Homo sapiens: one gene and its partner. The protein of the gene in region 1 purifies or fractionates together with the protein of each later gene. This does not show direct contact. Each region holds a gene or a part of one and is shown on either strand. Other genes may lie near its edges.

The links.
Region 2: the proteins of SP4 (region 1) and PCDHA4 purify together in Homo sapiens (affinity purification with mass spectrometry; one large-scale study listed by BioGRID and IntAct). This does not show direct contact.

The regions. Positions count from the first base shown.
Region 1 is NC_000007.14:21,473,062-21,476,885, forward strand, and holds part of SP4 (transcription factor Sp4), read left to right. Parts: intron 1-3,824. UniProt on the Homo sapiens protein: Binds to GT and GC boxes promoters elements. Probable transcriptional activator.
Region 2 is NC_000005.10:141,005,744-141,009,457, reverse strand, and holds part of PCDHA4 (protocadherin alpha-4 isoform 1 precursor), read right to left. Parts: intron 1-3,714. UniProt on the Homo sapiens protein: Calcium-dependent cell-adhesion protein involved in cells self-recognition and non-self discrimination. Thereby, it is involved in the establishment and maintenance of specific neuronal connections in the brain.

The DNA of each region.
Region 1 (3,824 bases):
AAAGTGAGATGATCAGAACACTACTTTTTTATTTTTCTGGCAGCAGTGTGAAGGATGAGAAAGGAGGGAAAGCTCAATTTAGGTTGGTAGAGGCACAGATTGAACAAGGGCTTGGATCAAGATGATAATCTTGCTTGGAAACAGGTTAGCGTAAGAGCTGTTAGGCAGTAGTGTCTTCAAAATTTGGTCATCACTGGATGTAATGAGTAAAGAAGTAGCCTAAAAGATGACATTTTAAGGTTTTCAGTGTGGATAACAAGGAGAATAGGGGTAGCATTTACTGAAACAGGGACATTAGCAGAAGCAAGACTGGAAGATGAAATCATTTTTTATTTTTAAACTTTGATTTATTAAGCATATGCTATTGAGTGGCACTGTTATTGAGTTATTAGGCACTGTTACGGTACTAGAGATACAGCAGTGAACATAATAGGCAAGATCCCTACTTTCATGGCACTTTACCTTCAGAAGTGAGGTGAAGACCAAATTATAAAAGGACAAAGTAATTTAAGACAAATAAGACAAAACTAGGTGATGATACAGTGATATATTGAGGGGAGCTTTTAGATGGGATGGTCAGGAATGGCATTTCTAAAGAGGAGAGATTTGAACTCAGACCAGAATATTACAAAGGAATCAACTATGCAAAGATCTGGGTGCAAAGGCATCCCCACTTAGACTGGAGAGTATATGCAAAGTCCCTAAGAAGGAAATGAGCTTGATTTATTTGAGGGCCAGAAGAGAGGCCAGTATATCAGGTGCAGAGTGAGCAAGGGAGAGACTAATAGAGATGAGCTCTGAGAAGTCAATAGAATTAAACTTAAGTGGGGCCTCGGAGGTCTTGCTCTGGAGTTTGGTGGCTTACTGATGGCAGTGGAAATAAAGCAGTATGTTGAACTTAGCTGTCTGTGAAACATCTAGATGAAGTCAATTAACGGGCTTCAATATACAAACTCAAATATAATTTGCCTCTGTTATTCATTGAAATAACTTTCCAAGTTGTTTAGGCATTGAACAAAGAAATGCTCACAATATGGAGGCTTGAGGAGTGTGTCAAGGACATGGTCAGGGGACCAGAGGGATCAGGAATCTCTAGCAGTTCTTCCCCACCCCTCACCCCCAGACTTAGCTTTGACTTGAAACTCATCTAGCAGTTCTTTACCAAAATAAAGGTCATCTTAAATATTATTGCGACCTTTAAAGTAATGACTGTTATATAAATGTTATGAGAAAAGTAGTCAGAGAATCACGGCCAAAAATACCTGTGTCTTCAGGGGATGTAAAGGGTACTTACCAACTTAAAATACCTGCAGCTCCATAGGGACCATGCTGTAGATTTTGTATAGTGCTTGTTCAGACAGTACTCTCATTTCTAGAAATGCATTTTTTGCAGTAAACAAAGTGTGTGTATCACTGTGCTTCTTGGTACACAAGTAGTTTGAATAGATTTTGTAGCCAAGGTCATCCTTAAGCCATCTAGTTTTACTGAATACATGTTCAAAAACACTGAAACAAAATAATTATACCTTTTGTTTATGTATTGCTTTATAATTTATATAGCCTTTACCCCTGGAAAATCAACTTGATCCTCAGGAACAGCTCTTTAAAGTAGATAGGGAGCAGAAATTTTATGGAAGTCAGTGTTACTATTTTAGAGTTGAGGAAACTGAGGATCTCTGAGTGCACAGTCATAAATTTACAACTCTCACTTCACTTGCATTGCTTTACTTACCACACCATGCTAATTCAAAGGTGTACAAAAATGTAAATTTTAGTAGAGGGTTTGTATCCTTACTAAAACAGTGACAAAATAAATTTTTTAATGTGCATGTTAGTTATGGGTGCTACCAGAAGGATTAACGGTGCTGTGGATACGCAGAGGAGAGTGAGATTGACTTTGGCTGGGAGAGTCAGAGGTTTAATTTTGTTTAGAAAATGTGTACTGTTTTCTTACTTGGTACTTTTTATTGCCTCTTCTTGGTTGCCCCATACATTTAAGGTACTACATGTGCAGCTTTGAAATAACCTCCCCCACCCTTTTTTTGTTTTTTGTTTTTTGTTTTTTTTTTTGAGACAGAGTCTCACTCTTGACGCCCAGGCTGGAGTGCAGTGGCACAATTTCGGCTCACTGAAACCTCTGCCTCCCGGGTTCAAGCGATTCTGCTGCCTCAGCTTCCCAAGTAGCTGGGACTACAGGTGTGTGCTACCACACCTGGCTAATTTTTTGTATTTTTAATAGAGATGGGGTTTCACCGTGTTAGCTAGGATGGTCTCCATCTCCTGACCTCGTGTTCCACCTGCCTCAGCCTCCAAAAGTGCTGGGATTACAGGCCTGAGCCACCACGCCTGGCCTGAAAGAAACCCTTTTATTTTGTATGCAGGACCGGTATGTTTGTTTCTGCTAGCATATTTTATTGTTATTTTGAGACAGAGTCTCGCTCTGTCGCCCAGGCTGCACAGTCTCAGCTCACTGCAAGCTCTGCCTCCCAGGTTCATGCCATTCTCCTTCCTAAGCCTCCTGAGTAGCGAGTAGCTGGGACTACAGGCGCCCGCCACCACGCCCGGCTAATTTTTTGTATTTTTAGTAGAGGCTGGGTTTCACCATGTTAGCCAGGATGGTCTCGATCTCCTGACCTTGTGATCTGACATCTCAGCCTCCCAAAGTGACATATTTTATTCTTGTATTGCCACTGAACTCAGCAGAGATGAATTGGTAACAGTAGCTACCATGTAATGAGCAATTCCGTGCCAGCACTCTGGTAGAGGATTTGTAAATTTACTTAATACTTACATCAACTTTCTGAGGTAGAAACATTCTTTCATAAATTGGTATTTTCTTTTCAGTCCATTCACATACTTGTTATTCCCACACCTGATGGAGAGAATGTAGAACTGTGTGAAAGAAAAGATAATTATAAGGCATTGTAGGCCGGGCACGGTGGCTCACACCTGTAATTCCAGCACTTTGGGAGGCCAAAGCAGGTGAATCACCTGAGGTCAGGAGTTTGAGACCAGCCTGGCAAACATGGCAAAACCCTGTCTCTACTAAAAATACAAAAAAAATTAGCTGGGCATGGTGGCACACGCCTGTCATCCCAGCTACTAGGGAGGCTGAAGAAGAAGAATTGCTTGAACCCAGGAGGTGGAGGTTGCAGTGAGCCGAGATCGTGCTACTGCACTCCAGCCTGGGCGACAGAGCAAGACTCCATCTCAAAAAAAAAAAAAAAAAAAAAAAGCATTGTATTTCAGGATAATGTTAAGCCATGCCAATAGATTTTTTTATTGTTGTTTTATTGTGCATTATTTATTATATTTTTCCCAAAGTGAAGAAGCCAAGCTGGTATATATACTAATCTGAGTGATGAAGTCTAAGCTATATAACATGAATGAATAAAGTAATAATATCTTAAATGTCTTTTTATGATTACAGTGACAGTATGTAGTAATCTTGGGTGGTTTTGCATTTCAAAAACCACTTTATGTATACACTAAAAAAAGTCGAATCAATAAAGAGATGTTTATTTAAACTATTTAGGAATGCAAGATGTCCATAAAACTTAATCCTTTGTTTAGTGACTTTTCACTCCTGTATTTTCTTGTTATGATAAGATATGTTGCTTACCGTGGAAATGGTAATAAAGCTTTGTGTTTATATAACATCTTTTAGGATCTCAAAATGCTTTTAGACTATCTCATGTATCCTCATAGTATTTTAGTGAGTAGGTAAGTGGCAAGTATTATCTTCATTTTACAGATGGAGAGAGAAATTAAGCCACAAAGTGAGTTAAATGATGTATGTATATAGTTCCGTTATCTAGATACAT
Region 2 (3,714 bases), on another chromosome or scaffold:
TGTTTAATTTTTTTGAGACAGGATTTCCCTCTGTCACCCAGGCTGAAATGCAGTCACTGCAGCCTCGACCTCCTGTGCTCAATCAATCCTCCCATCTTAGCCTCCCAAGTAGCTGGAACTACAGGCACAAGCTCCCATGCCAGGCTAGCTTTTTAAAAAAAATTTTATAGAAATGGGATCTCACTATGTTGCCCAGGCTGGTCTCAAACACTGAAGCTCAAGAGATCCTCCCACCTTGGCCTCCCAAAGTGTTGGAATCATAGACATGAGCTACCACACCCAGCCAAGGCCAGTATTTACAGACAAGCAAGAGGGCAGGTTTTTTCACCAGGATACCAAGAATCTAGTTTCATAGTAACATATGTTTGGTTCTTTGTGAAGAATTTCCTAAAGAATACAGTTGTGATTATCTTGACTGGGAACGGGATGGGAAATACAGAGCCTAAAGGCAAAATATGCTCCTTTTAGTGTCTAGATTAAACTTTGGCTATAAATGTATTAGGATGTCTATTTTGTCCAAAACAAGAAAAATTAGCTGAATAAATTATTTGATCTTAATTTTATTGTAATAACATTGAAGGGTGGTGGGATGCAGCATGGAAGAGATGGGAATACACAGCGTAAGAGGATGGAATCCTGTTGTAAATTGAGCCTATTTGTTTAGATAAAACACTGGGAGCCAATTTTACTTTCCAAGCCAAATTCCTTCCCTCAGTGTGCTCACAGTCTAGTTGGACATACACTCAAGCAACTAGAAACCAACTTAATACATGCAATAACTAAAGTATATGTAAAGTATTGTGGGACTCCAGAAGAAGAAATTGTTAATTATACTTGAGAAAGTTAATGGGGTTCCAGAGGAGGTGAAATCTGCCCTGAGTCTTGGGAAAATGATTATGCATCCACAGGAGTTTTCAATAAAAGACATTCCCAAGAGTCTGATTGGAAGACACACCATAAAGTATACCAGTGACTTCTAGAAGAGTAGAAGTCAGAGCTGGAGAGGAAGGGTAATGGTCTGTCTGGGCAAAGTGATCCCAGTGGCCATGACATTGGAACTCTGACATCATAGCAATGTTTATGTATCTAACACTGCTCCTTTGGTTGACACGTGAAAAGCTCCATCAAATAAACTGTTTATGTTCAATTACAGTTTAGGGTTGGGTACAACTGCTATTTCAATTTCCTATTACTTCTCAGTCTCCTCTAATTTGGTGTCCCTGAGCAGTAATTTTCTAACATAACTCATGTCAAGTTCATTATATTACTTCCACAATCAATGGTCACATTTTAGTCCTCATCTTATCAAACCTCTCAGCAGCATTTGTCATCCCCTTCTTGAAACACTTATTCTCATGAGTTCTTTGTCATGTAGAATAACCCCAATAAGTTCTTAGATGGACTGGACCCCTGTTACAAAAGGCAGATTAACAAGAAAAAAAAGGAAACAGAAGTTTATTAACATGTACATTTCATATATACATGACAGACACCCAGAGAATGAGCAGTTCTCAAAAAGGTGGCTTAGAATTCCAGCTTATATAGCATCTTCAACAAAGAACAATAAATTTTTAAAGAAGTGTAAGACAAAGGAAAAGACCTTTAAGGACTTTGAGTCTCTAATGGGTAGCTACTTGGGGGAAGGCAAATGAATGGCAGATAAAGGCTAATTTGTAAAGCAGTACCATTTCCAGGCCAATAAGAGTCCAAAGTTATCTTCAGTGGTTAACCTTTGTTCTCCCTGGTGGTGGGAGGCAGAGGAGGGAGGTGGAAGTAGGATAACTTTTGTCTTTGTAAATTTATGGTTTTTTAGGCAAATACAGGGAGGGCAGAAGACCTCTCCTATATCTGCTTCTTTTATTATTATCATGATTATTATTTTTTAAATTTGAGATAGAGCCTTGCTCTGTTGCCCAAGCTGGAGTGCAGTGGCGAGATATCAGCTCACTGCAGTCTCTGCCTCCTAGGTCCAAGTAATTCTCGTGCCTCAGCCTCCTGAGTAGCTGGGACTACAGGCACATGCCACCATGCCTGGCTAATTTTTTTTTTTTTTTTTTTTTTTGTATTTTAGTAGAGATGGTGTTCCATCATGTTGCCCAGGCTGGTCTCGAACTCCTGAGCTCAGGCAATCTGTCCACTTTAGCCTCCCAAAATGCTAAGATTACAGGCATGAGCCCACTGCACCCAGCCTGTATCTGCTTCTTTTAACTTGCCTTCAGCTCAACAATCCTTCTTATTTTGGGACAGCATATTCTGGCCCCCACCATCAAAACATTCTCCTGACCTTTCTCTCTGACTGTTCTTTGACAGTTTCCTTTGTCAGTCTCCTCATCTGTGTGTTGAAGCTTCCTTGGGTTTGGCCCTAGACTCTCTTCTCTATTTTCTCTTCACTCTCTCCTTTTGGGATCTCAGCCATATCCATAGATATAAATACCATATGAATAAGCTGATGAGATGCAGACTTATATTTTAAGCCCACATCTCTCTGTGCTCCAATCTCATGTATAACTGCCTATCTGGTATCCCCAGTTGGAAATCTCATGGGCATCCCAAACTGAAGAAATCTGAAATCAAACTCTTGATTCCTCGAATCTATTCCTTTCTAAATCTTTCCAGTTTCAGTAAATTACACCCCATTTACCCCATTTCTCAAGCCAGAAAGTTCAAAGCTAATTATTCATTTTTCTCTATTCTATTCTTCATTCTCCATTTATAATACATCATCAAGACCTGTCATTTCTGCCTCCTAAATATATCTTGACTCTGTCCTCTTCTCCCAATTTTCACTGCCACCACTCTTTCAGGACACCATCATCTCTTATATGAATTGCAGCAATAGTCTCCTTATTCAGTCTGCTTCCACTTTTGCTTCTCTCCAACCCTCCACACAGTAGCCAGAGTCATCTTTATTTCTTAATGTCTCTCTTTAAAAACTGATGTATAACAGCCAGGCGCGGTGGCTCACACATGTAATCCCAGCACTTTGGGAGGCCGAGACAGGCAGATCTCGAGGTCAGGAGATTGAGACCATCCTGGCTAACACAGTGAAACCGCGTCTCTACTAAAAAATAGAAAAAACTTAGCCGGGCGTGGTGGTGGGCGCCTATAGTCCCAGCTACTCAGGAGGCTGAGGCAGGAGAATGGCATGAACCCGGGAAGTGGAGCTTGCAGTGAGCTGAGATCGTGCCACTGCAGTCCAGCCTGGGCAACAGAGCAAGACTCCATCTAAAAATAAAAAATTTAAAAAAAAATGAGGCATAACATACATATAGCAAACTCTTTTAAAAATATAAATCAGATTATATCACTCCTCTGCTTAAGCTTTCTACTGCCTTGAGAAAAAAAAAAAAAACTCCTTACCATGATACATAAGTCCCTTCAATAATCTGATTTTTATTTCTTCTCCACTCTCATCTACAAATCTCCCTCTTACTATTATACTCCAACCATACAGGCCTTCTTTCAGATCCTCAAACACTCTTTGGAATTGTTTTTTTATTGTTGTTTGTTAGAGATAGGTTCTCACTCTGTCAACCAGGCTGAAGTGCAGTGGTGCAATCATTGCTTGATGTAACCTCAAACTCCTGGACTCAATCGACCCTCCTGTCTCAGCCTCCCAAGTGGCTGGGACTACAGGCCACCATACCTGGCTCCTTGGAGTTGTTTTTGCCTCAGGATCTTTACACATCTGGTTTGCTTTTGTCTTGAATGATT